Linked DNA regions of Homo sapiens. The protein of the gene in region 1 interacts with the protein of each later gene in a biochemical or structural test. Each region holds a gene or a part of one and is shown in the gene's direction. Other genes may lie near its edges.

Region 1 (4,317 bases):
GAAGGGAAGAAATGATGTTTTCCAAGAGACCTTGAAATTGGGGACCTTGGTAAAGGTTTCAGTTTGGGAAGATAAAAAAGTCCTGGGATGGATTCCAACAGTGTAACTGTACTCAATGCCACTGAGCTGTACGCTTAAGAGTGGTAAATTTTATGTCTATTTCACCACAGTTTTAAAGATTAAAATTTTTAAAAGTGGGGGAAGTTACCTAGGACTTTCTAGAAGGACTTTTGAGGGTGAGCAAGTTCTGTTATAGGCTTGTGTATTATTTTGGTATTTCTGATTTTATCATAGGAGTGAGGTTAAAGTTGTATTTTGACTGGAATTTTTGACATTGTCAGGGTTTCTAGAGTGTGGAGAAGGTCACTCAGTATTTTTTGTTTTTGTTTTTTGTTTTGCCTTTGTTCTTGTTTTCCTCTATTTAGGGAGGTGGATTGCCATGGGAAGTACCTTTGCTTCGAAAAGCCAGAAAATGCCTGGTAGAACTCCAGAAAAGTAGTAAGGAGCTGGCTTCTTCAGAGGCAGCATAGCAGAGTGGGAAGAGGGCCCTGTCACTTAGATTGTGACTGTCGACAAAGTCACTTAACCACCAGAAGTTGGGTTTTCTGACGTTTAGAATTTTGAAAAGATTAAAACTGAGTGCCTTGCAAAGTACCTGGTATATATTAAGTGCTCAATAAGTGATAGTTGCTTTGATTCTAAGAACTGGTTCACCTTGTGAGATATAATTGTGTAATGGAAGAATGAAAGCAGAAACTTTAGTTTCTACTTTTACATTTCCTGGGCCATTTTACTACCCTAAATGAGAAGCTGGGCTTCCAAAACCCACTTTAAAAGTAAAGACTAGGCCGGGTGCGGTGGCTCTTGCCTGTAATCCCAGCACTTTAGGAGGCCTAGGTGGGCAGATCACTTGAACTCAGGAGTTTGAGACCAGCCTGGGCAATACAGCGAGACCGTATGTCTACAAAAAATACAAAAATTAGCCAGACATGGTGGTGCATGCCTGTAATCCCAGCTACTCGGGAGGCTGAGGCGGGAGAATTTGAGTCCAGGAGATCGAAGCTGCAGTGAGCCGTGATTGCGCCGCTGCCCTCCAGCCTGGGTGACAGAGTGAGACCCTGCCTCAAAAGAAAAAAAAAAAAAGAATAAAGATTAATGGAGATTTGGAACATCTTGATACTGTATCTTGGGAATCTAAGCATTGTAGAATTGTGTTATGTGAGTTATACCATTGTGGTGGGAAGTTTTTGATTTTTGTTTTAACTGTGTTGAGTTGCAGTTCTTAGAAATGACCCGAGGTGTTGTCTTACAAAAGAAATAAACTGTAATCTGTATCTTGATCTGATGAGGGTATGTAAATATAAAAAATCGAGCTGTATACTTTCTATATGCTTTATGTAGTTCACTATATATAATTCATAGCTCAATTAAAAAGAGAGAGAGAGGCTAAATTGTATGTACCATTGCAAAGAAATCATTATCCCCAGAACTGACTCACATACACCTTTAACAGTAGAGGGAGAACTGAGGTATTAATTTGGAAAAATAATCACTGGGATAATTAATATAATGCAGTGGTTTTATGACTGATTTTTTATTAACTTCTATTTTCTTTGTATTCTAGTTAATAAAGGTATCCATGGAGAACACTGAAAACTCAGTGGATTCAAAATCCATTAAAAATTTGGAACCGTGAGTATTTAAATTGAATTCTTTATAATCAGAGAAAGATGGGGATGTGTAATAAGCAAACCTCGAGCAGTGGGGCAAGAGGAAAGAGAGTGGTCTCTCTCTCAGGCCAGAGAGACCAAGTGACTTCCTACCTCAGACAGCTGTGTGGCTTTGCATAAACTGACTTTTCTTCTCTGAACCTCGTCTTTAACATGGGGCTAAAACTTTCACAGAACTGAAGGGAAGATGAAAGGAAAGGCCTAGTAGGGTGTGTGACCCATAGTTGGAAACCTAGTCCTGGAACCAAAAGGACACCACAGGAGAGGCAGGACTCCCAAGCGCCGGTGCTTTCTACCCTCCCGAATCGCTCTATAGGATTAGAGGGTTTAGGTTTGGGAGGAGTTTCTTGACCTCTTGTTTATGAGTTTTTACGACTAAAATGCAATGCCAGTTTTCAGTCCGGGGACAAACTGCCTAGTTATGGATGAATTTTACCCTTTTTTTCCCCGTGTCTTTTTGGAATATTCTGCTTATTAATGCTTCCAATAACTAGCAGATGGAAAAAGGAAAAAGATAAAACTCAAATTCACTTTTTAATTCTTGTCTGTTATTATTTATTTGGGATCTCTCGTAATACTTTAAATTCTGAAAGTTTATTTCTGAAACCCAGTATTGTTATTCTCGGCTGCCCTGAATATTACAAACTAATTTTATTACTAAACAATATGATTACAGAAATACTATTAACAAGTTACCACTAAAGATTTCACAATTTTGTTTAGCAAAGGGATTTTTCTAGAAAGTAAACTTTTAAAATGCAGTCCCATTTTAGAGAGTTGTTGCTGTCATTTAAATCATTTTAGCCAGTGCAGTGGCTTGCTCCTGTAATCCCAGCTACGTGGGAGCTGTGGCAGGAGGATCACTTGAGGTGGAGAGTTTGAAACCAGCCTGGGCAACATAACGAGACCCTGTCTCTACAAAAAAACAAAAAACAATTAGTCCACCATAGTGTGTGTGCTTGTAGTCAGTCCTAGCTACACGCCAGAGGTTACAGTGAAGTAAGACCCCATCTCTTCAAAAAAATCCTTTGAAAGTGATTTACACATTTTCCTACTATTTTTTTTTTCTTTCTTTTTTGAGACAGGCTGGAGTGCAGTGATCTGATTATGGCTCACTGCACTCCTGGGCTCCAGTAATCCTCCTGAGTAGCTAGGACTACAGACATGTGCCACCATGCCTGGTTATTTTTGTTTTTTATTTTTGTAGAGATGGGGGTCTTGCTGTGTTGCCCAGGCTGGTCTCCAATGCCTGGCCTCAAGGGATCCTCCTGCCTCGGCCTCCCAAAGTGCTGGGAGTACAGGTGTGAACCACCCTGCCTGGCCCTACCTTTTCATGTCATGCAGAACACCACTTCAATAACAAGTTGCACGGAAGCCCCAGACAGGTTTAGGGTTGTTTCGATCCTTTGGTAAGTTGCCCTCACAGTCCCGGCTTTCACAGCCTCTGCCTTTTATTAGGAGTATCCCCTCGTGGACTAGCTATCATATGCTTGTAAAGTACCTACCTCCTTAGGAGGCACCCAGAGCACGTGGGGAAGGGGTGTCGGGAGCTGGGAGTCATAAGTCCCATGATCCATCATCTGTAGGACTCAAAGGTCAAGTCACGCTTTCAGGATTTAACTTCAGTCTGTAAATGTGAGGCTGTTCACCTCTGGTTAAAAATCATAACTGTTTTCTCACGTTGACTCCTTTAATTTACTACATTTAATCTTTTTCCAACAGTATTTTTGGAATTGTGTATAATGTGAGATGCTCTTAAGGTTAAGTGCATGAGTATATGGACTGTAGGTGTTAGTGTTTGGTAGTTCCTAGACCTGTTTTTGCCTGACTCTTGGTCTAGATCAGGGATCAAGCTTAAGGCCTGTTTTTATCAACTTTCGTTGGAATATAGGCACATCCATTCGCTTACATATTGTCCTAAGCCCGTTTCACCAGTATAATTGAGCAGCTATGGCTGGGCACAGTGGCTCACAACTGTAATCCCAGCACTTTTGGAGGCCAAGGCAGGAGGATCACTTGAGGCCAGGAGTTCAAGACTAGCCTGGGCAACATAGCGAGATCCTGTCTCTAAAAAAGAAAATACAGAAATTAGCTGGGCATGGTGGGGCATGCCTGTCTGTAGTCCTAGCTACTCAGAAGGCTGAGGAAGGAGTATCACTGGAGCCCAAGAGTTCAAAGTTGCAGTGAGCTATGATGGCACCACTGCACTCCAGCTTGGGTGACAGAGCCAGACCATGTCTCAAAAAAAAAAAAAAAAGAATAGAATTGAGTAGCTGTAACAGAAACCAGATGGCCCACAAGCCTAAAACACTTAATATTTAGCCCATTAAAAAAAAAGTTTACTGACCCCAATCTAGATAGCAGAGGTTTTTTTAGATAAGTGACTTCCAGACAGATATTTTCAATTATTTACAATAATGCTTTTATATATTAATAAATTACTAATTTGTTTAGCTCATGGGGTTTAAGGAATAATTTATGAATTGTGATAAATATTGTGCTTTGAGTTATATTTGCATTTTGTTGATTTCCCATCATTTCAGGGTAATTTTTAAGATTTTTACTCTTACCTCAAAGGATAAAATAT
Region 2 (3,907 bases), on another chromosome or scaffold:
TTGTATTTTCCTGCCGTGGCCACAGGGTTGTCTGTCTTAGACTCCCCCCTGTTTCAAGGATACCCAGTGTCCCTTGCACACTTTGCACAGTGGACAGCTCACTACCTACCATTCTGTACAATCAGCATGCCATTCCTGATTACGTTCCAGTTGCCTACTATCCCTTTCACGGAGGAAGGCACAGATCTGGACTTGATTCCCAGGATGGTCTGAGCAGCCTAGAGGGGAATGGGACTCTCACCTCCTTTGTTCTGGGCATTCAACTTCTGTTAATGCAGCCCTGATTTTTAGAATCATGTTGGCTAGTCACAGTGCATTAGTGACTCATGGGAGTCAACCAAGGCCATCAGGGTCCAAAGTCTGTGCCCTCAGCTCTGATGGGCTGTGTTCCTCCAAGTCCCCACCTGAGAGCTAGTCCTGCTGCGGGGTCTCCTGGGCTGTGAGGAGGGGGCTGAGGGCTTTTTGTCTGGTTCCTGATTAACCAAGCTGTACCCTCCCAGGTATTGCCTAAGGCTGGTGCACTGAACTCCAACGATGCCTTTGTTCTGAAAACCCCCTCAGCCGCCTACCTGTGGGTGGGTACAGGAGCCAGCGAGGCAGAGAAGACGGGGGCCCAGGAGCTGCTCAGGGTGCTGCGGGCCCAACCTGTGCAGGTGGCAGAAGGCAGCGAGCCAGGTAGGAGCCGGGGTGGGGGGCCTGCTGCTGTCCGGATGCAGCTATTAAGTTTCCCCCTTCTTTCCTTCAGCTTGGGGGCTCTAAATCCTCCCCTCCATCCCACCTGAGGGCCTGTCCCCTAATGTATGTTAAATAAAAGCAGTTGCATTAAAATGAGGGCTGTGGCCAGAGAGAGGGAGGTCTCCAGGAGCTAAAGAAAGGAGAGCCTAGCCTGGGCGTGGTGGTTCATGCCTGTAATCCCAGCACTTTGGGAGGCTAAGGCGGGCGGATCACCTGAGGTCGGGAGTTCAAGACTAGCCTGACCAACATGGAGAAACCCCATCTCTACTAAAATACAAAATTAGCCGGGCATGGTGGCACATGCCTGTATAATCCCAGCTACTCGGGAGGCTGAGGCAGGAGAATCACTTCAACCCGAGAGTTGGAGGTTGCGGTGAGCTGAGATCACGCTATTGCACTCCAGCCTGGGCAACAGGAGTAAAACTCTGTCTCAAAAAGAAGAAAGAAAGAAAGAAAGGAGAGCCCAGTGTGGGAAGGAGCAGTTGGTCTGTGGAAGGAGGCGGTCCCTCGCTAGGAAGCCTTGAAAGGTGGTAGGCAGGGCTGATAGCGTCAGAGGAGCAGTGGTCTCCTTGCATCTCTAGACTCTCCATGGACAGAAATGCCACCAGCCTGCTCTGTTTCCAGAATGTGGGCCGGGCAGCTCTTCCTTCTGCCAGCCTGCAGTCTTTATACTGTTACTTTGAGTTCATTCCCACCTGCTTGATGCTTAACAGAAATGGTGAAGAGTGACTTGGTCTAAAGCAGCTCTGTCCAGCAGAACCTTCTATGCAGATGGACATGTTCTGTATCTGCCGAGTCCAATTTGACAGCCATTAGTCACATGTGGCTGTTGAGCACTTGAAATGCGACCAGTGGGAATTAGTGGGAATGAAGAACTGAACTTTTAGTCGAATTTAATTTTAATGAATTTAAATTTAAATGGCTGCACATGGACAGAGCAGGTATAGTGGAAAGAGTATAGGTGTTAGAATCAGACAAGATTTGTATCCTGGTCTTAACACTTACCATCTGTGTGACCTTGAGTGAGTTGCTTAACCTCTCCGAGCCACAACTGCCTCATTAGCTGAGTGGAGCTAATGGTCCTCATCCCGCAATGCTGTCGTCAGCCTCAAGCCAATAGTGGTCCTGGCTGTGTGACTACTGCCAAGTCTGCCCTCTCTGGGCCTCTATTTCGTCACCTTCCAATTCCCTCAGGCCTCTTCCCTCTGGATCTCCTGGGATTTTTAGGATGGAGGGAGGAGAGGGAGAGCAGTTGGTTGCGCTTGGGCAGGGCTGGTCCCAGGGTCCGATGAGATGGGAGAGAGGGGTGATGGCGTCCCTTGGCAACTGGCGTGGCCTCCCCTCACAGATGGCTTCTGGGAGGCCCTGGGCGGGAAGGCTGCCTACCGCACATCCCCACGGCTGAAGGACAAGAAGATGGATGCCCATCCTCCTCGCCTCTTTGCCTGCTCCAACAAGATTGGACGTTTTGTGGTGAGCCCCTGCGGAGGTCACACCTCTGCTTTCCCCTCGGGAGGCGAGTTCCACAGGACTGGCCGGCAGCAGGGGCAGGAGAAACAGTTCTGATGGTGTGGCACAGAGGAAGGGGCCCCCTGCCAGCTGCAGCCAGCTGTGCCACTCCCTCAGGGGGCAGATAAAGGAAGGCCACCCAGGGGAGGGAAGACATCTCACTGATGCTCTTTCGTTCCTTCCCAGATCGAAGAGGTTCCTGGTGAGCTCATGCAGGAAGACCTGGCAACGGATGACGTCATGCTTCTGGACACCTGGGACCAGGTGGGTGAAGGACAGGTGAAGGCTCTCTGTGCCAGAGGGAGTGGGAGAAACTAGACTTCCAGTTCTATGATCAGTTGCTAGAAGGACCTAAAGGGGGCAGTGCCAGGTGTTGCCAGAAAAGTCTCTAAGGGTACTGGAAGTCACTTCTTCTTTCTGAGCTTCCATTTCCTCATCTGTAAACTGGGAGTGGCGGTACCTCCCTTGCAGATACACTCACCTTGAAAGCTGCAAAACGCCCTATAAAGGCAAATCACATGACCTTCATCATTCTCTCCCAGACCTTGCAGGAGCGTGAACTCTTCCTTTAAATCTGTTGGCAGAGGAAGTTGAACTTAGCAGCATCTTGTTTGCAGGCATAAACTGTCCAGTGTCACCTAGAGGCTCTAGAGGGCTCCTGCTTCTGGTTTGAGGGCTCTGGGCTCTGTCTCCACTTCATCTCCTAGAGAAGGCCATTATGTAGGACTTGGCAGGGGAAGATGCCATTCACTTACTCAACCAATATTAATTGGGCACTGCTTTGTGCCAGGTGCTTTATGTTTGAGATGCTGGGATAGAGCAATGAATAAAGTAGGCATTTTCCTGCTCTCCCAGGGCTTACGTTCTCACAGGGGTGTCAGGTCAGTCACCTTTCCTATCAAGGTGGCTTCTCCCAGAGTCCTCAGAGTTACGGAGCAGCTGGCCACGAAGGCATAAGACTCTACACTACCCACAGGGATGCTCGGAATCCCCAGTTGGAAGATCGGGACCAAAAATGATTGCAGCTTGAGCCATTCAGCAGTTGTCATTGATTGATCCATTGGCTACTTAATCTGTTTGTTCATCTGTTAGGGATTCAGTCAGCCAACATTTATTCAGCACCATGGTCTTGCAGGCAAAATGCTGAGTGCTGAGAATCCTATGATGAGCAAAATAGAATGCCTGCCTTCGAGGGGCTTCCACTTTAGTTGGGAACACATTTATAAATAAGTAAGAGAGGGCCAGACATGTTGGCTCACACTTGTAAACCCAGCACTTTGAGAGGCTGAGGTGGGCAGATCACTTGAGGTCAGGAGTTCAAGACCAGCCTGGCCAACATGGTGAAACCCCATCTCTACTAAAAATACAAAACAATTAGCCAGGCTTGGTGGTGGGTGCTTATAATCCCACCTACTTGGGAGGTCGAGGCAGAAGAATCACTTGAACCCAGGAGGCGGAGGTTGCAGTGAGCTGAGATCATGCCACTGCACTCCAGCCTGGGTGACAGAGTGAGACTCCGTCTCAAAAAAAAGTGAGAAAAATGAAGTCTGACATTTTATTGTCTAATGCCATTTTATCAATGATAGGTGCTCTTTGAAGTAATATTTTAGATATGCATAAAAATAGATGATACATAAAAATCAGCTAAATAATGTGTAATAGA
Region 3 (4,761 bases), on another chromosome or scaffold:
TTTGTTTGTTTTTTTGAGACAGGGTCTCACTCTGTGGCACAATGATCATGGTTCACTGCAGCCTCGGCCTTCTGAGCTCAAGTGATCCTCCCGCCTCTGCCTCCGCCTCCTGAGTAGCTGGGACTACAGATGTGCGACACAGCACCTGGCAAATTTTTAAGTATTTTCTTCAGACTGAAACATCATTGTGTTAAAGATAAAAAAGTAAAAAATATTCTTGTAGAGATAGGATCTCACTGTTGTCCAGATTGGTCTCAAATTTTTGAGCTCAAGCCATCCTCCTGCCTTGGCCTCCCAAAGTGCTGGCATTACAGGGTGAGTCACCATGCCTAGTCTGTACTGTTTTCCTGGCAATGTTATCTCATTCAATCTTCGTGAATAACCCTAAGGTAGATATGATACCAATTTTTCAGGTGAAAAAAACTAATCGGCAGGATGAAACTTCGTAAACAGCCTGTGGCTCCAAAAGCTTCTGGAAGGCTCAAGCTACCCATGTGCATCTTTGAGCCTCAGTTTCCCCATCTTTAAAATGAGGGGTTTGGAATAGATGTCTGTTCTCTGGGGCAGGATGCAGAGGAAAGAGCTGTCTGCGAATGGGCAAGAGAGAAGGTGGGTAAATACAGTTAAACCACAGTGACCGAGGGCCCAGCACAACGGGGGTGGGTGCGGTTACAAATGCCGTTAAGATTCCCGCCAAGGCGGAGGACGGGGGTGTCAGAGCCGAGCGAGGCCTGTGGGCGAGAATAGGCCTGACAGCCATTCTCCGACCTGCGTGGGCGCTGCAGGCGCAGGCCAGAGGCCAAGGGAGAGGCGATCCCTGGGGCTCTGCCCGGGTCTCAGGACGGCACCTCACCCGCCCGAGTCCTGCTCCACAGGATTCTCCGGGTAAGCTAGGGAAGGAAGAGGCGCGGCCTCCTGAGCCCGCATCTCAGAGCGCCACGTCCCTCCTGGCTCAGCCTCCCACCAGGCTCCACAGCTTCGGCCCTCCTCACCGCCCGCCTCCAGGCTCCCCGGCGCGGCCTTGTCCCTGCTCCCGCCAATCGGCGTCGTCAGCAATCGCGAACCGGACCAATCAGCGGCCGCAGAGTGTGGGAACTGTCGCCATGGCAGCCAGGAGGCGGGCGCGCGCGGCGGGAGGAGGGGCAGAGCGGAGCGGTGGGCCGGGGGCTGGAGGACAGGTTTGTGCGCTGGACGCAAGCACCAGGCGCAGCCTCGCTCGCCGAGACCCGGCCAGGTAAGGCCGGTGGCCGCGCGGTAGGTGCGGAGCAGCGCGGCGGGAGATTAGGGGTGGGGGAGTCCGGAGATAAGGCTCCGGTCTTCGCCTGCCTTGCCAGAGCAGAGAGGATGGTGGGGGCCGTGCTGTGGGCGGGGCACCGGCGGGGAGGGGGCTCCCAGCGCGAGCCGGAGGCGCTGGGTTCCCTCTGCTCCACTCGCAGCTGGGCACCCGAGCTTTCTTCGGGGTCGAGGAGGGTGGCTGGCTCTTGGCGGGGAGCAGGAGAGGGTAGGTGCCAAACCGAGACCCTGGCGGGGTCCCTTCGGGTTTGGGCAGGTCGATGGGCAAGGGGGTGCCCACTAGTGAGGAGGGACACCCACCAATTCCAGGCGATGCTCCCCTGTGCCGCTCAGCAAAGCTAGGCCCGGGGATCCTGCTCTTCTCCGGTCTGGTTAAGCCAGCAACCTCTGACACTTAGGAGAAAGTTAGTGTAAGTCGTGATATGCTTTTCACTTAAGTGACAAATTAGGTACGAGATGAACCCTTTTGGTTTTAGGAGATGAGAAACAGTATTTCCTTGTTGCACCTGCTAAGTGGCAACTCAGTGAGCAAATATGGTTATTGTGGTTGGTGTTTGCAACGGTCTTAGATGACAGTTATTTTACAGTATCAAATGGCTGGGAGAGGGAGGGAAAGAAGGAGAGAGAGAGAGAGAATATGAGGGAATGAGAATGAACGGGAACCATTATGATTTTTGAGAGACAGAACCTCTTGAAATTCTATGTCTGCTAAACTTCTAAATTGAATAATGTACATTTTATGCAATTGAATAAGCTAGTGCTACCATTTAAGCCTGCTACTAAGGCTCTGTTAAATCCGTGGACGAATATGAACACTAAAAGATATTACCTTGGTTTAAAAATAGGGGAGGTTAAATGCAAATATTTCTGATAGTGAATTTTGTTTGAGGGAGATTGTGGACTTTCCCTATGGGAAAGTTAAAGAATTGATGAGATAGATGCTTTAAGGAATGTTTTTGTTTTTTGAAACTTGAATAAGTTCAACAAATGTTGAACAAATATTTCAACAAATCTTCTTCAGCTAATAGGGTCAAAAATTAAAATTCTGGAAATTTAGAATTAGAAATGAAATCTCAAATAATGTCACTCTCCTAATTAGGATGAACATGGAAACTTCTATTTCTCATCGTGGTCTTCAAGCTTTCCATGATCTCATCTACCTTTGTAGTAGGGGGTCAAATTTTTTTTTTAACTAGACAATTTTAGAAACTTAAAGGAGGCAAAAATTTATTTCTGTCTCCGTGTGTTTACTCATGCTCTTCTCTATCCAAATTTTACCCATCTTTTTTTTTTTTTTTTTTTTTTTGAGATGGAGTCTCACTCTGTCACCCAGGCTGGAGTGCAATGGCCCGATCTCAGCTCACTGCAGCCTCCGCCTCCCGGGTTCAAGGGATTCTCCTACCTCAGCCCATCGAGTAGCTGGGATTACAGGGACCCACCACCACAGCCAGCTAATTTTTTGTATTTTTATTAGAGACGAAGTTTCACCATGTTGGCCAGGCTGGTCTCGAACTCCTGACCTCAGGTGATCCACTTGCCTTGGCCTCCCAAAGTGCTGAGATTACAGGTGTGAGCCACCGTGCCTGGACGACCCATGTTCTAAGAGTCGAATCTGTCTATGTTGTGTTTACCTTTCTTTGCTCTCCCAAGGTACATATTGTTCATATCACGTATTTTGTATATATTCTTTCAGCATGCTTTTTGCCAAGTTGGTTTGCGCTCTGTGAATAACAGTTGAGATAAAATGCACAATTAAGACAATTAAGGTACTTTTCAAGACACAACTAATTATGGGCACTAATATCAATAACATCAATTCAGATGTCTTTTTTGTTTTGGGATATGTTATTAATCTCTGAACACATACTAAACTAATTTTGCATTACTTAGAATAATATGTAAATTACTTTCCACTTTCTAAGGACCCTTTTGAAGGCTGGGTTCTACAAAATACCCTTTTGAGTACTGGGTAGCTGGCAGAAGCAAGTGCAGGATTTAAAAATGTATTGAAAATAATCCTTTAGGCCGGGCATGGTGGCTAATGCCTGTAATCCCAGCACTTTGGGAGGCTGAGGCGGGTGGATCACTTGAGTCCAGGAGTTCAAGACCAGCCTGGCCAACATGGTGAAACCCCGTCTTTACTAAAAATACAAAAATTAGCCAGACGTAGTGGCGGGCATCTGTAATCTCAACTACTCAGGAGGCTGGAGCAGGGGAATCGCTTGAACCTGGAGGCGGAGGTTGCAGTGAGCCGAGATCGCGCTATTGCACTCCAGCCTGGGCAACTAGAGTGAAACTACGTCTCAAAAACAAAACAAAAAACAGGCTACTAACAATTTCAAATAATTTATTCAAGGAAAAACTTCAATCACTTTCATTATTTCCAATCAAAAATTTTTTTTACAACCATGATGTGGTGAAAAGTATACTTAGTTAGAATTTCATGGCCAGATTCCAGTACGGGCTCTGCCAAACGAACTTGGCCAAGTCAGTTAACTTCCTTCTGTATTTATAACCTTTTATAAAAGTAGGGCTGAATTAGATTACAGTAGTCCTCCTTTATCCTAGAGGGATATGTTCCAAGGGTCCCAATGGATGCCTGAAACTACAGGTAGTACCAACCCTTATATACGCTATGTTTTTTGCTATACATACATAATAATAAAATGAATAACAGTAATACACTGAAATGAAAGTTATATGAATGTGATCTTTCAAAATATCTTGTTTTACCTCAGGTAATTGAAACTGCAGAAAGTGAAATCGCAGATTAGGGAGGACTACTGTACCTCCAAGATTATTTCTGATCTTAGAATTCTCTGATTCTAAAATCCTAAAGCAGCCTAATAGAAGTTCAGATAGTAGTTACTTGATTTTATTTTTGGCAGAGCATTTTTTTTTTTTTTTTTTTTTTTTGAGACAGGGCCTCACTCTGTTGCCCAGGCTGACTGGAGTACAGTGGTGTGATCATGGCTCACTGCAGCCTGGAACTGCCAGGCTCAAGTGATCCTCCTACCTCAGCCTCCTGAGTAGCTAGGACTAAAGGAGCATGCCACCACACCCTGCTAATTTTTAAGTATTTTTTTGTAGAGAAGAGGCCTCGCCATGTTGTCCAGGCTGGTCTCAAACTTCTAGGCTCAAGCGATCTGCCTGTCTTGGCCTCCCAAAGTGCTGGAATTACAGGCATGAGCCACTACACCTGGCCTTGGCAGAGTTTTTTTTGGCAGTGTATTTTAATTATCTGAAGTACAGTATATGTAAATAATAAAGAGATTATAATTTTAATAATATGTTTATTGAGTGATACAGATCTGTTTTTCATAAGCCTATAATCTAGGATACTCCAATCCGTTGTTAAGACTGGAAAAAAAGGAGATATAATAGTTTCATTGATGAGTGTCCTTTTCTACAGATGTAGACAACAGAGGCTCTAAGATCTATACTAATGTCTTGATCAGGGAAAAGCTG
Region 4 (4,317 bases), on another chromosome or scaffold:
ATAGGGCTTGTTGAGTGAATAAAAGGCAAGGTACAAAGTCATGTATCATGTTTTTCCAAATGTGTAAAATTATGGCCTAAATGCCTCCTCTCATATTCATCATATAGATGAAGAAGAGTAAATCATTGTTTTGATTTGCAGTTTTCCATGAGTAAGGTTGAGTATTTTTTCATATATTTTTGGTCATTTATGTATTTTTTTCTGTTAACGTATTCACTTGCACCTGTTTTTAATTTGGGTTGTTCATCTTTTTCTAAGTACTAAGTACCTAGTACTTTTTGTGTTAGGTATTTTTTGAAAAAAGTTACTTTATCAATTTTTCTCACAGTATTTTTCTGAGTTGAAGTAGGCGCGTAGCCAGTTAGTCCTTTACTGTATTTATCTCTGATCTGTTTATAACCTTATTATTTATTTCATATTTTGATGCTACTGCATATATACCTTTCTTCAAGGTATTTTTTTTTTCTGTAATTACAGACTCCTCTTTTGGGCCCTATATAATTATATGTTTAATAAATGTATCTTGCTTATGAAGTTGATACCAAGAAAGAGGTTAACTTCAGGAATGGAGGCTGGGCATGGTGGCTTATGCCTGTAATCCCAACACTTTGGGAGGCTGTGGTGGGGTATCATTTGAGGTCAGTCTGGGCAATATAACATAGCAAGACCCTGTCTCTACAAAAGTTAAAAAAAAAAAAAGTTAGCTGGTAGCATGTGCCTGCAGTCCCAGAGGCCGAGGTAGGAGGATTGCTTGGGCCCAGGAGGTCAAGGCTGTACTGAGCTGTGGTGTGCTACTCCACTCCAGCCTGGGCAACAGTGAGACCCTGTCTCATTAAAACTACAGCAACAACAAAAACCTTCAGGGACGGGATAATTAGGGATTTGTCCTGTGACCTAAAATCAGTCAATATTTAGTGATCCACCAGCTTCGTGCATGATTCTGTATTTAACTTGCTTTTCTATTTAGTGCTTAAAGCCTTATCCTTTATTTTTCTTATGTAGTATTCTTTTGATAAACTCTTGTTTTCTACATGTTACTTTGCATATCAGGTATATACTTTTGAAAATAAATTGCCGAAATTGATGAAGGAAATGCAAAACAATCATTTTCTTTGATTAGACATATTGTCAGTCTGTCCTGAAAGGAGGTAATAGTTTTCTCTAGGTAATAGTTTTCTCAGGAGTGATTTTTGGTGTTTGCCATGTCACATTGTTACCTTTATTGGTTTCCCCTCACATTGTCAATGTTGACATCAACAAAACAAAAAAGCACCTTTGGTGTTTGTGAAAAAACATGATCTATGTGGAATGAGATAGTCCTTTTATTTCTGAGCTTCAGATTATATGACCTTAAGAATCTATGCATTTTTGTATACTAAGAGACTTGCATTTGTTTTCTCTTATCCAGCTGGTGTCAGTAGAAAGTGATTCAGAGGGAAGTGAAAAACTTTCTCAATGATTTTAAAGTTATTAGTCTCAATGTTAATATATGAAAATTGATAGTTTTTTTGAATTTATTTTGAATTTTGGTTCAGCTTAATCTAGTAAACATTTGACTTGAGGACTAGATATTGTGCTAGACGCTGGGCATTTGAATACCTGTAAGTTGTGGTTCATCTCTGCCTCTCTGTCCTAAGGAATATTCTTGGGAATGGCTAATAAAAATACCACGTTATAGTATATTTTGAAAGTTGACTGACTTTCTGTTTTATTCAGTAATAATTGGACATTTTAAATATTATTTTGTTTTGCCTCTTTTAAACTCTTGGAGAAAATATAGCTAAAATATACTATTACTTGTTTTTAACTTTCCTGAGCAGCCTATAGTTTATTCTTTGACACATTTCTTCAAGGTCACCAATTTACTATAAGCATTGATATTTAATGTACTACAGATATAAAAATTATAGGTGTAGAAGATTGAGCTAGATATATTGCCATGAATAACTGCCCTAGGAATGTCATTTTTAGACTTTTTTGAAAATATTGCCTTTATACAAGATGTGGTACAGAAAAAACGTCAATTAACTGAGGGCTTTATTAAAGATATTATGGAACTATGAATGTATATAAAACCTTTAACAATAAATTTGATAAATTTTTAAGCACTAGATAGTTAAATTTATCCTAGTTATAACTTCATTTACATTTGTGCTCCAATATTATTTCAATTTAGAATTACTGGAAGAATTTAGTCCAGTTGTTGAGAGACTTGGATTTGATGAAAATTTTGTGGATCTAACAGAAATGGTTGAGAAGAGACTACAGCAGCTGCAAAGTGATGAACTTTCTGCGGTGACTGTGTCGGGTCATGTATACAATAATCAGTGTGAGTGGGTTCTTATTCATTCTACCTACTAACCAAAAGTACATACATTTCTTAATGTTCAGTGAGTTCGCTGTGTGATTCTGAAAGATTCATGACTTTTGTTGGAGGTATAGTTATATTTAGTCAGTAATCTGTCTAGGACAGCTAAAATTAGGTGCTGCTATTCCATAATAAGTGTTAAGATTTTGATGACATGTAGCTCAATGCTCTGTGCACTTTTCATTTGCACAGAGCATTGTTCCTGTTCATCTGCACAGAGCATTCATCTGTGCAGAGTTTTCGTCTGACACAGTGCATTGGTTCCCATTTTAGAAAGCCATACCCAGCTGGGCACAGTGGAGCGCCCCTGTAGTCCCAGCTGTTTGGGAGACTGAGCTGAGAAGATTGCTTGAACCCAGGAGTTTGAGTCCAGCCTAGGCAACAGAGCAAGATCCCATCTCTTAAGGAAACAAAAAGCCATACCTCTGTAGGTCATTCTTAAGTTGTAAGAGTTGGCTTCTTAATATGCTTTTTGGAATAATTTTTTATTATTCTAAAACAATCTCTAAGCAGAGTTTTCAGGTAGGCTAGATTTGCCTTTGATGTGTCTTTTACATGTTCCCTTCGATTCCCCTTTGATGTGTGTTTTACATGTTCACTTCGATTCCCCTGAGACCCTCATGTTGCTCTCTGAATTCCCAAGTTAGCACTTTTGGAATGTTGTCCAGGGCTATCTGCCATGTGCTAGAATCTTCTCCAAGCTCCTATTTAATCTGTTCAAATAATCTTTGTCAAAGTTAGCAAGAAAGCAGAATGGTTTGTCTCCTTCATATATTGAGATATGAATGACTGATGGTGTTTCCAGTGATATTTACATTTGAAAATAAGCTGCAGTAAGCACCAGTGAATATCTGATTAGGCTTTCAGACATCTTATGACTCTGCTGGTGACTCCCCTATCATACCACATACAAGACAAGGTACTCTGCTGTTGTGTAAGACTTGTCTGACCCTTTTGCTCTTAAGCCTCCCCATGCATTTCCTCTTATCCTCTTTTTTGAGAACTAGACATCGGTCTACAGAATAGTTCTCCACAGAAGAAAAGCAGTAGAACCACAGTTTCTAGAATACATGGAGCTTTTCCTGTATCTTTTGTACTTGTGCTCATTTGTAACTTAAAAGGGCTAACTAGCAAGAATATTTCAAATATATTTCTGTATAATTTTTAAGGCAAACTTGGATTTTATTGGTTAGAGTACATTATAGAGAGCTAGGTTTTATATCCCAAAAAGGGAAATGTGGAATTATTGATTAATTCTTCCTCTTTCATACAGATTTTATTAAAATTTTTTGTAAACCTACAGAAAAGTTGACAGAATAGTACAAAAAATACCCATTATGTCTTTTCTTTTTTTTTTTTTTTTTTTGAGACAGAGTCTCACTCTGTCGCCCAGGCCGGAGTGCAGTGATGTGATCTCGGCTCACTGCAACCTCCACCTCCTGGGTTCAAGCAATTCTCCTGCTTCAGCCTCCCGACTAGCTGGGACTACAGGCATGTGCCACTACACCCGGCTAATTTTTTTATTTTTAGTAGAGACGGGGTTTCACCATGTTGGCCAGGCTGGTCTTGAACTCCTAATCTCAGATGATCCGCTTGCCTTGGCCTCCCAAAGTGCTGGGATTATAGGCATGAGCCACTACTCCTGGCCCATTATGTCCTTTCTTGTAGATAAACCAGTTGTTATCGTTTTGCCACATTTGCTTTCTCTTGTTCTCTCTATGGATTGCTTGGTTGGTTGATGAGCTATTTGGAAGTAAATTGCAGACATCCTGACATTTCATCTCTAAATACTTTTAGCGTTAGTCTCTTTGAGGTTAGGATGGTTTCATGTCATTCCAACACTGTTTTACACCTAAAGCAAATTTATTTTTATATAATTTTCTTACACTTTTCATAAAAGAGCTCTAAAACTGTGTACAGGTCAGAGATTGTTTCTAGCAGCATATACT
Region 5 (4,317 bases), on another chromosome or scaffold:
TATGCACACAGATAATTTGAGAAATCATTGTCAAACTGTATATGCCATTTATGGCTGGGGCTTCGGGAGAAACTGAGGTTACCCAGAAATAACGTTAAAAATGCAGTACAATGCTTAATAATATTGTATTGTACTTGAGTTTTGCTGAAGAGTAGATTTTAGGTGCTCTTGCCACACACAAAAAAAAGTGGGTGAGATGATGGATATGTTAATTTGCTTGACTATAGTAACCTTTTCACTATCTATGTATCCCAGACATATTTTACATCTTAAATATATACAATAAATACTTTTTAAGAAATTGATTCATAGGAGGTATTTATGTATTCCCGATATCAATCTCTTGTTAATACATGCATTGCGAATGTCTCATTTTTAGAATCCAGACCATTACTCTTTTCACTGTCTATAGGGTGATATTAGGAAAGGAATTTTAAATGCTTGTGTAATTGAAATATTTAATATTTTCTTCTATGTCTTAGTTTTTGCACTTGTAAAATGTAATTGTGCCTACCTCACAACATTGCGATGACTGAATGAAATAATGCATGCCAAGCACTTATCCCGTACTAACTGAGTTTTTGGCTCACAAGTGTTCAGTAACAATTTGCTATTACTATTATGGTACCCTTTATTATGCAAAGACCTGTTCAGTGAAAGAAAAATAATTTTATGTCTGGGAGAAAAATAAGTAAAATAAAATAAAATAAAATATGCAGCATCTGTTGGGGATTCACATACATTTTATTTTTTAATTTTTAAATTTCCTTTTAAAGATGAATTTTATTGCATATATTTAAGGTATACAACATAATGTTTAGGGACACACATCGATAGTAAAAATGTTAGTGAAGCAAATCAACATATCCATCATCTCACGTAGTTACCCTTTTTTTGTTTCTGTGCCAAGAGCAGCTAATGTCTACTCACTTAGCATGGGGATTCACATACATTTTAAATAACAAAACACAGACAGATATTCTCTCATATTCACAGGTGAAATAAGGTAACTGAATGGTAACTTAGCTGACCCATGACTGCAGGTCAGGAGAAATATGCGGAGGCCTTAGAAAAGTAATCATCTAAAGATGATGTGCTCTAATCCCTCATCCCCCAAGATGAGGAAACTCAGATCCGCAGTGGTTGCAACATTCAGTTAACAGGGGAAAAGCTAGTTAGTAGGAAAGCCAGAACCCAAACCCAGGCATGCATAACAAGGCCTAGTTCAATGAAGAGAGCATTATCCAAAATCAAACGGAATGACCACGGAATTCTCCTAAGGGTCTACTTCCTGCACCCATGTGCACCTGGGCTTCTCTGCCAGGCTTTGTGGTCATGCGCCCTCAGACACAGGTGTCACCTGATATCTTCTGCTTCAATATATTCAACACTTTGAGCAGGTGGACATGACTCTCAGCTTGAGACTAAGTTGTGTCAATGATCTGGTGGAGCTCCAGGAAAAAGCAAGCTTCTGCCCAGGCACCTGTAATCCCAGCACTTTGGGAGGCCAAGGCGGGTGGATCTCTTGAGCTCAGGTGTTCAAGACCAGCCTGGGCAAAATGGGGAAACCCTATCTCAACCATAACTACAAAAAATTAGCCAGGCAGGTGGCATGTGCCCGTAGTCCCAGCTACTCAGAAGGCTGAGGCAAGACAATTGCTTGAGTCCAGGAGGCAGAGGTTGTAGTGAGCCAAGATAGAGCCACTGTACTCCAGCCTGGGTGACAGAGTAAAACTATGCCTCAAAAAAAGAAGGAAAGAAGAAAGGAAGGAAGGAAGGAAGGAAAGAAGAAAGGAAGGAAGGAAGGAAGGAAAGAAGGGAGAGAGAGAGAGAAAGAAAGAAGGGAGAGAGAGAGACAAAGAAAGAAAGGGAGAAAGAGAGAAAGAGAGAGAAAGAGAAAGAGAGAGAGAGAGAGAGAGAGCAAGCAAAAGCAAAAAAGCAACCTTCCTCTGTAACACTCCACTCTCTGCTTCATGCTTCCATAGTTTTGAGGTTATGTTCCTAATCTGGAGATCTTGAACCCAAATAAGTCTATAAAGGACTTCAGGGGTCCACAAACCCCTGGATCATATGCACAATGTCATGGGTTTATCTGTTTTTTTTTTCCTTGAGATAATTACCATAATGTTTATCAGATTTTTAAAAAAGAGACCTGTAATCTCCAAAAAAAATAAGAAATCAACCAAACCAGGTGGGCCCTTTTGGTATAGTTAGATTGCCCAACTTCCAGCCTCTTCTCTACTCTGAAGAGTAATTTAAACATCAGTATGGCTGAAGTACAGTGTCTTGTAAACAGTGGGTGCTCACCAAATAATCATGACCCTAATTTTACTTTAAAAGGCTTTCTCTGAGAACTGCTCTTCCAGTCCTTTATTTGTTGTATTATTACTCTTTCTAATCAGCTTTCTAGAATGAGCTAGTTTGGGATCACCTGGTCTCATATCTCTTTTTCTTATGCTATAATTAAACCAAATGATTTTAATGTGGCCCTGAATTTCCCCCTTTTGACTGCAACAAAATTTTGTACAGAAATCCCACAGTATCCTCCACTCTTTAATGTCTAGGTAAATTTGTGTCTCTTTTTATGAAACAATTGTTATATCTGTTTGCAATGAATCGAGAAAATGTAGAACATAAGCCTCAGATTTACTGATGAGAAGATCAAGACCTATATGTTAGATAAATGGACATGCCAATGGTCATACTGTTAGAAGGTGGCAAATCTTGTCCTATACCTAATCCCTCTCTCGCTCTCTTTCTCTTTCTCTCTCTTTCTCTTTTCAACATTGAGATTTGAGCCTGCATAGTTGCAATTTCCTGGAGGTTATTGAAATCATCTTGAGCCAGTGACTGGATGTAATGTTACCATCTGATGGCCAGGTTTCATTCAATCAGGCGACTTGTTAGAACCAAGTGATACAGTTCAGAAAGGCCTGACCATGGGGGCTGGGATGTCTTCCTCTATGAACCGTTGTTCCGATGCTCGGTCAGCAGGTTTGTTATGTGGCCCCCATCCTCCGGGGATCACCAGGGTTCTGGGTATGCCCCTGTCTCATCTGATTAGTCTTATCTGGCTTGCTCTTCATTTGCCCCTTAATGAATGTCATTAAATTTCCCACAACCTACAACATCTACACGCTGCCTCCTTCATTTTTTTCCAACCAGTTCATTCACTTTCCCTGAGTGTTGTTTGGAATACGAATTGCATTAGTCACTATGTTTATTCTGCTGTGCTCTAGAGTCTCATCTTTGAGTGGTGCTGTTTCTTCTGCTAAAGCAAGAGTTGCCATAGGAACAGGCCTACATGTTTTCTTCCTGTACAGGAAGTGAACCTGGGCATTGCAATGCTGTTTTCAGAGTTGGTCAAGGCTAGCTCATAATGTTTGGCTGCTTATTTAGATGGAAGAGAATTGATGAGCCAAGGGATATTATTTCTTTGTTTCTCTTTTTTTTTTTTTTTTTGGTTCCATTAAAATTGCTCTCATTTGGCTTTACTTCCAAATTATTTTTCTTCCTCTTGCCAATAATAGTGACATTGAAACTCAAAACTAGAACTGATTTTGGCCAGAGATATCTTCACTCCTGGGAGACTTTATTAAGGTTTGCAGAACCACTCAGGATGTGATGTGACAGACATTTTCTTATAGTTGTGTCACTTAGGAGCAATGAAGGCTTTAACCACAGGCAGGGAAAAGAGTTACCCTCAAGATAGAATTAAGGAAATCAGAAAACAATCTCCTTGCCCAAATATCTCCCCGGCAGCCATCTCATGTGGCTGTCAGCCACAGGGCCTGAAATTCTTCCCAGAGGGACTTCTTCCTCTTGGTTAGTATACTGCCTCTCATCCAGCTGTGTGAACCTGGGCAATTCTCTTAACTCTGGATCTCAATATCCTCAATGATTACATGAACCCCAGTGGTTCATTTCAGCTCTGAAAAGCTGTGACTATACATCCTCTAAAAGGAATAATTTTTGAATCTACTATTCAGTCATTAACCCTTAACAGGTAAATAACTTGCCTAGATTTCTCCTCAATGTTTTAACACAAAACAAGTAAATGTAGATAATAAGAGATGAAGGAAGACTCCAGGGTATGCCCAGGTGGGGCCTTATAAGGTCAATGGAAACCTAGGAAGGGGAGAAGGGGAGAGACTGAAAGGGAAGTGGATCCAGAAAAGGGAAATGGATGGACAAATGCTAAGGGCAAATTTGTACTTACGATTTTGTCTGGAGGAATTTAAACTGTCCTTTGCTATTTTTGTGGCATTTAAAAAGAATAGAATATCTTTAGATATAAAACCTTATATATCAATCAAG
Region 6 (4,858 bases), on another chromosome or scaffold:
TCTGCCCCAATAACCTCCCTCTCTTTGGGAACATTGCTGCATTCAGGGCAGTCTGTCTTCCCTCCCTATGGGCTGTCTTTAGAATGTGTCCCTTGCCTATATCCATATTCATGCTCCGTGCTCCTCAGCCCCCTAGAAACTTTGCACAATAGATTCAAAACCTCTGGTTTCCTCCCTTCCTCTGTCTGAAAGAGTGAAAGAAGGAAGCCAGGGATTTCAGGGGGCAGCCAGGCAGCAGTATCACCACCCCTAGGCAATCACACCTAGTTGCAGCTTCATCGGGAACAGCTCAGCTCTGAAAACACAGACCTGGGACTCTCCCTCCCAGCCTTCTAGCTCTCGTTCCTGTGAGCAGCTTTTCAACCTCCACTTCCAGCCGCTGACAGGCCCTCCTGGCTCCACAAGGCCAGCTAACATACCCACCTTCCACAATCCCCAGCCCTGCCAGACATAACCTGCAACAGGCATTCCTGGATCAATGCAAACTCCGACTTCTGTTCCAGGAGTCTGCCTCTGTTAGAAGAATCTCACACAAGTGTGCGTGCTGTGCCATTGTAAATGCTGTATAAGGTGGCCAGGCCCAATCAGTCCCTGCAAGACACCGAACAGTAAGAACTATCTATGGAGTGTTTACTATGTGCCAAGCACCGTCCTTTGCAAGCACTATTAACCCTCAAAATACCACCACCGTGAGATTGAGACCATCATGATTCCCGTTCTACAGAAGGAAACACTGAGACTTCAGGAGGTCAGGACCTTTCCAGGGTCACAACTGCGTAACTAAGTTGCAGAGCTCAACCCAGTGGCACTTCCATCTCACACGCAGCTGTCTGATGGTCAAGAGCCCAACCAGTCCCCCGGTCGTTTCTACCGCACTAAACCGCTGTGTCAAGCTGGAGCAGCGGGCTCAGCAGTGAAAATGAAAGAACAGAAGGAGGTTACAGAGAAGAGAACGGTCACGGTAAATTCCGGAGAGGAGGCAAGGACGTACACACCGAGATACTTCCCGGTCACCGTTACTCAGCACTTTGTGGGGTTCACGTGGCTGGGGGGGCCGGGGCGTGGCGGCCCTTTTCGAGGAATCCAGCCCTGCCTGGGCGGTCCCCATCTCGAGCGTGGGCGTGTTCGATTCAGGCCCGGCGGACGCATCCCCAGGTGACCCGGGAGGGACCTTGTGTCTCTGGGGGTGACTGTCCGTCTCCCCGCCTCCCACCGTCACGCGCAGTGCTGATCCCCACTTCCAGCTGGAGTGCGAGCTGGGCTTGGGGTTACAGGAGCCGAAGCCCTGGAGCTCCGCCCCACGCTTGCGCCAGCCCCGCCCCGATCCCGGCTCGCAGGCTCCAGGGGCGGGGCGTGGCCGGGGCGCAGCGACGGGCGCGGAGGTCCGGCCGGGCGCGCGCGCCCCCGCCACACGCACGCCGGGCGTGCCAGTTTATAAAGGGAGAGAGCAAGCAGCGAGTCTTGAAGCTCTGTTTGGTGCTTTGGATCCATTTCCATCGGTCCTTACAGCCGCTCGTCAGACTCCAGCAGCCAAGATGGTGAAGCAGATCGAGAGCAAGGTACGCGCTACCGGGGAAGGCCAGGGTGCCGGCGCCGCGCGCGGCCTCTGTAACTGGGGAAGGCGGTGGCGGGAGGTGGGGAAGGCGGTGGCGGGAGGTGCGGAGGCCGCCCCTCCGCATCGCCAGGGGAAAGGGACGCGGCGTCTCGGCCTGGGACTGCGGGAAGCAGCGGCCTGGGCGCGCCCGAGGCGGTGGAGCCTGCCCTGGAGGAAGGGAGGAGAAGGACGAGGGTCCCCTGGAGGGCGGAGTGGCGGTGCCCAGCGTTTCTCGCACCCTGTTCCTCGGGGGATTGCACGCACGCGGGGAGCGTCCGGGGGATGTGAGAGCGCAGACAGCGTGAGGAGTCCCCACGCTGCGCCTCCTGCACCCTCCCGTCCGGGCAGCCCCGACTGGAGGAAGATGAGGGAATGGAAGGGGTCCGCCCTTGGCCCCCCATCTGTATCCAGATTCAGGCCCCAGGCAAGGATAGGGAGGGCCCTTGCAGAAGGCACGGGTCGGTGGCCGCCGCTGCCTTTCCGTATGTGAAGTGATCCACCCGCAGCGGGGGTAGTGATCTCCCTTTGGGAGCGGGTCTAGGCCGGAGACCCCCGCCTGCCTCCACCCATGCCCGACCCCAAAGGTGACGCGTGCTGTATCCGCACTAAGGGGGCGGATTGCGGCTGGAGACCCCCTGGCACGTGCAGGTCTGTCCAGGAGGCCCGAGGGCCCCAGGTGACCGCGAGGAAGTGAGGTCCGGGCCGCGCCCACGGGACTCCTGTGGCGCAGGGCGCGTTTCCGGCAGCAGTGGCTTTGGAATGACTGAGTCCCCAAGGTTGGGCCCGGGGGCCTCGGCTGCCCTGCCCGTCCATGATTCACCCTCAGTCGGTGGGTTTTGCTGGAGCCAGGGTTCCTCCTGGGAGCAGCCGCGCCCTGCTGCCTGCTCGCCGACCTATCGGTATCCCGATCGTTGTTTTGTCCTCTTAAAAATGCCCAAGGCGAAACAGCCTTCCCATGTTTGAAAGTTATTGCAAGCCTAAAACCTTGTAGACTGGGAAACCCAGAGCCTAACGCGCAGTGTCTAGTCCAATGTAGCCACTCCAGAAATATTTGTTAAATGCAGCGTCAGAAAAGTGAGTGGAGGAAATTGATACTGCTCGAACGGTAGAAGACCCCTCGCCAGCGCCTACCCTGCGATTACCCCTCCCTACCTGCGGGAAGCAGAGGAGGGCGGGTCCTCGCCCGCCTCGGGTGCCCTGACCTGTTTGGTGCCGGGTGGGCTTCGGAAACAGAAGTGTGTCTGCAATGTGTCCCCGATCCTTTTGTTCCTTTGATTATTATTGACTCTCAGTGTTTTTTCCTCATATGTTGATTGCCACTGTCATCTTTTATCTTCCTCTCAATCAGTTTTTTCTTAGTGGGATTCTCATTTTAGCAGCCCTCATGTGTTGAAAAGATCCTTAGTAGTGAATTGTCTTTCATATACTTTTTTTCCAAGCACCTATTGTGTGACAAATTATTAATCCATTCCTGGGGAAGGGAGTGGGGCTGGGATTCTGTTCTCCAGGGTCTGGCAACCTCAGTATAACCCAACTGCTAAGAACCCCCTCCACTGAGCCAGAAGACCTTTGAGTGGTCTATGTTAGTTGTCCCAAAATCCAGACACTACAAACAAAGTTGATTAGGATTTCTGGAGCACACAGTTTAGTCCTCCCAGTTGTCAGAGCATGTCAGAGCACCTTCCTCCTCTACCAGTGACAAAGGTGTACAAGGGTGACAGGAACTTTAAAAAAAGCACTACAGCCTGGGGCCCAAAGGCCCTGATAATCAATTAATCCTCAAAATAACAATCCAAAGTCATTGATCGAAAGTTACACTAATTTGATTGTTATTTGTCTGTTAGTTTGTTTTTCGAGATGGAGTTTTGCCCTTGTTGCCCTGGCTGGAGTACAGTGGCGCGATCTCGGCCCACTGCAACCTCCACCTCCTGAGTTCAAGCGATTCTCTTGCCTCAGCCTCCTGCACAGCTGGGATTACAGGCATGCGCTGCCAAAATGCCCAGTAATTTTGTATTTTTAGTAGAGATGGGGTTTCACCATGTTGGTCAGGTTTGTCTCGAACTCCTGACTTCAGGTGATCCACCAACCTCAGGCTCCCAAAGTGCTAGGATTACAGGCGTGAACCACCACGCCCAGCCTGTTATTTGTAAATGTTGAATACATGTTACATTTTCATCCTAATGGGCTAAATTTGCACCATTTGCCATTCAGAACAATTCTGTTTCTGAGGTACTCTGTTGGTGCTTTAGGGCCAACTGGGATCTATTTCAGAGAGGAATGGAATAATTGACTGTAAATGTGATGAGGAAGAAATAAACACTTTTAAAAAAAATGACACCTACCATTTATTGAACTCCCATCTACAAGGCACTTGGCTAAGTACTTCAGAAACCACTCACACTTATTACCCTCAGAGTAGGTATGTTGAGGCAACGAGATCTTAGACTCTTGCTCCTATTTACCCCAACTACACTGTTCTGCTTCCCCCAGATTATTGGTGTCAGTGATGGAGACATTTATTAATCCTGTTAGTTTCTGGGAGCTAGAAATTGTGATTTCTTCTTAGTAATACAATCTTGAATAATTTTCAAGCTGATACCCGTTTAGAAGTATCAGAAGAGAATTTGTACATGAAGCCTGCACATACGTGGGGTGTAACTCATGTTCAGTTAGGCTAAAAGTTATTGTTGCGTGCCTCTTTTCAGAATTTTAGGTACTTGTGCTTAAATTTGATTCAGAACTGTTTTGGAAAAGCCTTGAGTATGTTTGAAATACCTTCCCTCTTGAAAGTAATCTCAAGTTTTTAATAAGGGTTAATCATGTTAAAAAAACAAAAATGTCTATTCAACCAGACATTGGCATTTCTTGACCTTTTTTCCTGTCTTACCTGGATCTTGCAATAAAGGATGCCTGGTTTAACTTTCTTGAAAATCACATTAGGGAAGGCTTTGAATGAAATTGATCTGGAACAATAAGTGATGATTTGGAAAAACAATTGCTATACTTCTATGTACCCTGCTGCAGCTCTCCCCATGTCTCCACCTCTAGAGGTGGGGTTCAGGGATTTGCATAACTAAAAAATTTATGAAAGTGTTGTCCTACCTTTCTCAGGAACACCATTTGTGAATTATTTTCCCAAAAACGAGGTAGAAATTAGAAATCTAGAGAAGTAACTATTAGTACATGAGGTCATATTAGTGTTTTCTTGTTGGGTTTTTTTTTGTTTATTTGGTTTTTTATCTTATGGTTTTTTATTTATTTGAT
Region 7 (4,317 bases), on another chromosome or scaffold:
GTCATTTTCCAAGTTATACAGAGTGATATCATGTTAGGGTAAGTGGAATTCTATTCAAAACTACTCTGAGACTAGACAAAAAAAATAATCCAAGGATAGTAGATGGAAAGCACATTAGGAAAGAGATAAATGTTCACTAACTACTATTGGGTTGTCTTAGGTAGTTATGGTAGTGAGTGTAACATTTCCCAGTATCTGCTGCCAGATCCATTGATAGGAAAAGGAACTGGGATTTTGAAAGAAGACAAATATTCAGGAGATAGGTGTTAAAACAATCATTCCTAGGTCACAGGACACACTAATGAGAACAATACCAATTAAAATGAGAGGCTTTCTTTTAATACATCTTTGTAGATACTAACTTTGAAAATAAGATATTTAAAAGGATGCTTTTTTTCTATGTATTTTTTTAAAGTGTAATTAAAACTAAATAACTAAAACAAAATTTTCTAGTTATAAATGAATCTCTTTTTGGATTTTATGTCAACTTACATATTCCTATTTTAACTCTTAAATAGTTGCATCTTTTCCCCTCAGTACATGAAAATAGACAAGAGGCTCATAACCAAAATCAGGCCTTGAAGACATATGGAAACATTTTGGAACCCACAAATATGCACTTAAAAAGGAGCTGAAAGCTGTAAAAACATGTATATTTTCTTAGAGAAGTGTTCAGTTGCTATAGTTAGTACATTTCCCAGTGACACACTTAGCTATGATGGCGAGCTTCCTCTGCCAGGCCAAAGTTCAGGACCTTTGTGCATCTACAAAATTGTGACAAAGCAGGCAGAATTTTAACCCCTGAGGCTAAGGCATTTCTTTAGGATGCTCTTCAGCTTTTCTTAAAGAATTACATTTAGAAAAGATCATCATACAATGCTGGATTGCCCAGAATGGAAGGGCATTCCATTTTTCCAAATGTGCTTCTTTATAAAGAACTCATGCCTACCTCTAAAATCAAGTTAAGAATTTTTAAGAAATTTAATAAGTATCCCGGCTTTGTCTATATTGTAATTCATAATATGCTTTTAACATGGCCATGCCCCGGGTAGGCATGATGGCTTATGTCTGTAATACCAGCACTATGGGAGGGCAAGGTGAGAGGATTGCTTGAGGCCAGGAGTTCAAGACCAGCCTGGGCAACATAGCAAGACCCCATCTTTACAAAAAAATCCAAAAATTAGCCAGGCCTGGTGGCATGTGCCTGTAGTCTTGGCTACTGGAGAGGCTGAGGTGAGAGAATTGCTTGAGCCCAGAAGGTCAAAGCTGTAGTGAGCCATGATCATGCCACTGCACTCCAGCTTGGGCAACAGAGCAAGACCTTGTCTCAAAAAAAAAAAATCCATGCCCAGTTTAAATGAGCTATGATTTGATGTATTTGCAGTACCTGCAAGGCATCTGCAAACATAAGGGAACCTATAGCTTTGTAAAGAATACCACCACTCACTCTGGCAGATTCAGTCTGGGCCAGCCGAGTATTCTAGTCTGCTGAAGTATATGCCAAGCATCAACCACCTCATCTCTAGAATAGTGGCCTACAAAATGGGGCATACCTGAAGTATGCAAAGTCATCTTTTGGGGTACATAAAGTAGAAGTTCTATTTATCTCATTTTAATGTTTGCTTGGGGTATGTGTTTTATAATTTGTACATACATACGTATTTTTGTGGTACAGGCTTGGAAAAAAATTTACTCACAGGGATATATGATTTTTAAAGATTTGGAGACCACTGTTTTTTTGGGGGGTGGGGAGGGAATTTTTTTTTTAATTGATATATCATAGTTATACATATTTTAGGGGTACATGTGATGTTTTGATACGTGTACACAATGTGTAATGATCAAATCAGGGTTATTGGGATATATATCACCTCAAACATTTTTCTTTGCATTGGGAACATTACAATTCTAGCTATTTTGAAATATGCAGTAAATTAACTGTAACTCCCTACGGTACTGTCAAATACTAGAATGAAGACCACTGCTTTTGCAAGGTCCTGAGCGCCATCAGTTTGACATGAGCATAATATATATGGCAGCCACTTGCCAACTTACCCAGTACCATCAATGCTGTTAACAGTTCTTCATCCTTTTTCCAGCTTCTACTCGAACACGAATGCAAAAGCAGAAAATGAATGATAGCATGGATACCTCAAACAAGGAAGAGAAATGAGGATCTCAGGACCTTGGTGGACACTGTGTACACCTCTGGATTCATTGTCTCTCACAGATGTGACTGTATAACTTTCCCAGGTTCTGTTTATGGCCACATTTAATATCTTCAGCTCTTTTTGTGGATATAAAATGTGCAGATGCAATTGTTTGGGTGATTCCTAAGCCACTTGAAATGTTAGTCATTGTTATTTATACAAGATTGAAAATCTTGTGTAAATCCTGCCATTTAAAAAGTTGTAGCAGATTGTTTCCTCTTCCAAAGTAAAATTGCTGTGCTTTATGGATAGTAAGAATGGCCCTAGAGTGGGAGTCCTGATAACCCAGGCCTGTCTGACTACTTTGCCTTCTTTTGTAGCATATAGGTGATGTTTGCTCTTGTTTTTATTAATTTATATGTATATTTTTTTAATTTAACATGAACACCCTTAGAAAATGTGTCCTATCTATCTTCCAAATGCAATTTGATTGACTGCCCATTCACCAAAATTATCCTGAACTCTTCTGCAAAAATGGATATTATTAGAAATTAGAAAAAAATTACTAATTTTACACATTAGATTTTATTTTACTATTGGAATCTGATATACTGTGTGCTTGTTTTATAAAATTTTGCTTTTAATTAAATAAAAGCTGGAAGCAAAGTATAACCATATGATACTATCATACTACTGAAACAGATTTCATACCTCAGAATGTAAAAGAACTTACTGATTATTTTCTTCATCCAACTTATGTTTTTAAATGAGGATTATTGATAGTACTCTTGGTTTTTATACCATTCAGATCACTGAATTTATAAAGTACCCATCTAGTACTTGAAAAAGTAAAGTGTTCTGCCAGATCTTAGGTATAGAGGACCCTAACACAGTATATCCCAAGTGCACTTTCTAATGTTTCTGGGTCCTGAAGAATTAAGATACAAATTAATTTTACTCCATAAACAGACTGTTAATTATAGGAGCCTTAATTTTTTTTTCATAGAGATTTGTCTAATTGCATCTCAAAATTATTCTGCCCTCCTTAATTTGGGAAGGTTTGTGTTTTCTCTGGAATGGTACATGTCTTCCATGTATCTTTTGAACTGGCAATTGTCTATTTATCTTTTATTTTTTTAAGTCAGTATGGTCTAACACTGGCATGTTCAAAGCCACATTATTTCTAGTCCAAAATTACAAGTAATCAAGGGTCATTATGGGTTAGGCATTAATGTTTCTATCTGATTTTGTGCAAAAGCTTCAAATTAAAACAGCTGCATTAGAAAAAGAGGCGCTTCTCCCCTCCCCTACACCTAAAGGTGTATTTAAACTATCTTGTGTGATTAACTTATTTAGAGATGCTGTAACTTAAAATAGGGGATATTTAAGGTAGCTTCAGCTAGCTTTTAGGAAAATCACTTTGTCTAACTCAGAATTATTTTTAAAAAGAAATCTGGTCTTGTTAGAAAACAAAATTTTATTTTGTGCTCATTTAAGTTTCAAACTTACTATTTTGACAGTTATTTTGATAACAATGACACTAGAAAACTTGACTCCATTTCATCATTGTTTCTGCATGAATATCATACAAATCAGTTAGTTTTTAGGTCAAGGGCTTACTATTTCTGGGTCTTTTGCTACTAAGTTCACATTAGAATTAGTGCCAGAATTTTAGGAACTTCAGAGATCGTGTATTGAGATTTCTTAAATAATGCTTCAGATATTATTGCTTTATTGCTTTTTTGTATTGGTTAAAACTGTACATTTAAAATTGCTATGTTACTATTTTCTACAATTAATAGTTTGTCTATTTTAAAATAAATTAGTTGTTAAGAGTCTTAATGGTCTGATGTTGTGTTCTTTGTATTAAGTACACTAATGTTCTCTTTTCTGTCTAGGAGAAGATAGATAGAAGATAACTCTCCTAGTATCTCATCCATTCCTAGCCTTTAAGGGGCTCTATATGCTAGAGATTTCCAAATTTATTTCTTCAGCCCTGATCTTTTCACAGAGGTCAAGGCTTTTATAGCCAACAGAACTCTTGATTCCTACTCCCCTCTACCCAATGTCTCCAAATATAAACTAAAATCAAATAAATAAAAATCTTTTTTTTCTACCCTGGTCTTTCTCCATTTTATTAAACATTTATCAAGTCAAAAACTTAGGA

Evidence for each region.
Region 2: of the proteins of CASP3 (region 1) and GSN, one has a biochemical effect on the other in vitro, tested with the Homo sapiens proteins (2 studies listed by BioGRID).
Region 3: of the proteins of CASP3 (region 1) and NUCB2, one has a biochemical effect on the other in vitro, tested with the Homo sapiens proteins (one study listed by IntAct).
Region 4: the proteins of CASP3 (region 1) and POLI form a complex in vitro, tested with the Homo sapiens proteins (one large-scale study listed by BioGRID).
Region 5: of the proteins of CASP3 (region 1) and ARHGDIB, one has a biochemical effect on the other in vitro, tested with the Homo sapiens proteins (one study listed by IntAct).
Region 6: the proteins of CASP3 (region 1) and TXN interact in a biophysical measurement, tested with the Homo sapiens proteins (one study listed by IntAct).
Region 7: of the proteins of CASP3 (region 1) and RB1, one has a biochemical effect on the other in vitro, tested with the Homo sapiens proteins (2 studies listed by BioGRID).

The regions. Positions count from the first base shown.
Region 1 is NC_000004.12:184,635,776-184,640,092, reverse strand, and holds part of CASP3 (caspase-3 isoform a preproprotein), read left to right. Parts: intron 1-1,624; coding exon of another isoform or gene 1,625-1,639; coding exon 1,640-1,692; intron 1,693-4,317. UniProt on the Homo sapiens protein: Thiol protease that acts as a major effector caspase involved in the execution phase of apoptosis. Following cleavage and activation by initiator caspases (CASP8, CASP9 and/or CASP10), mediates execution of apoptosis by catalyzing cleavage of many proteins.
Region 2 is NC_000009.12:121,326,808-121,330,714, forward strand, and holds part of GSN (gelsolin), read left to right. Parts: intron 1-500; coding exon 501-675; intron 676-2,083; coding exon 2,084-2,208; intron 2,209-2,430; coding exon 2,431-2,508; intron 2,509-3,907. UniProt on the Homo sapiens protein: Calcium-regulated, actin-modulating protein that binds to the plus (or barbed) ends of actin monomers or filaments, preventing monomer exchange (end-blocking or capping).
Region 3 is NC_000011.10:17,275,595-17,280,355, forward strand, and holds the start of NUCB2 (nucleobindin-2 isoform 1 preproprotein), read left to right. Parts: upstream 1-1,144; 5' UTR 1,145-1,234; exon of another isoform or gene 1,235-1,258; intron 1,259-1,428; exon of another isoform or gene 1,429-1,703; intron 1,704-4,761. UniProt on the Homo sapiens protein: Calcium-binding protein which may have a role in calcium homeostasis. Acts as a non-receptor guanine nucleotide exchange factor which binds to and activates guanine nucleotide-binding protein (G-protein) alpha subunit GNAI3.
Region 4 is NC_000018.10:54,275,527-54,279,843, forward strand, and holds part of POLI (DNA polymerase iota isoform a (long)), read left to right. Parts: intron 1-2,176; coding exon 2,177-2,329; intron 2,330-4,317. UniProt on the Homo sapiens protein: Error-prone DNA polymerase specifically involved in DNA repair. Plays an important role in translesion synthesis, where the normal high-fidelity DNA polymerases cannot proceed and DNA synthesis stalls. Favors Hoogsteen base-pairing in the active site.
Region 5 is NC_000012.12:14,951,423-14,955,739, reverse strand, and holds part of ARHGDIB (rho GDP-dissociation inhibitor 2), read left to right. Parts: intron 1-4,317. UniProt on the Homo sapiens protein: Regulates the GDP/GTP exchange reaction of the Rho proteins by inhibiting the dissociation of GDP from them, and the subsequent binding of GTP to them. Regulates reorganization of the actin cytoskeleton mediated by Rho family members.
Region 6 is NC_000009.12:110,253,113-110,257,970, reverse strand, and holds the start of TXN (thioredoxin), read left to right. Parts: upstream 1-1,463; 5' UTR 1,464-1,535; coding exon 1,536-1,559; intron 1,560-4,858. UniProt on the Homo sapiens protein: Participates in various redox reactions through the reversible oxidation of its active center dithiol to a disulfide and catalyzes dithiol-disulfide exchange reactions.
Region 7 is NC_000013.11:48,477,899-48,482,215, forward strand, and holds the end of RB1 (retinoblastoma-associated protein), read left to right. Parts: intron 1-2,080; coding exon of another isoform or gene 2,081-2,099; coding exon 2,100-2,173; 3' UTR 2,174-3,992; downstream 3,993-4,317. UniProt on the Homo sapiens protein: Tumor suppressor that is a key regulator of the G1/S transition of the cell cycle. The hypophosphorylated form binds transcription regulators of the E2F family, preventing transcription of E2F-responsive genes.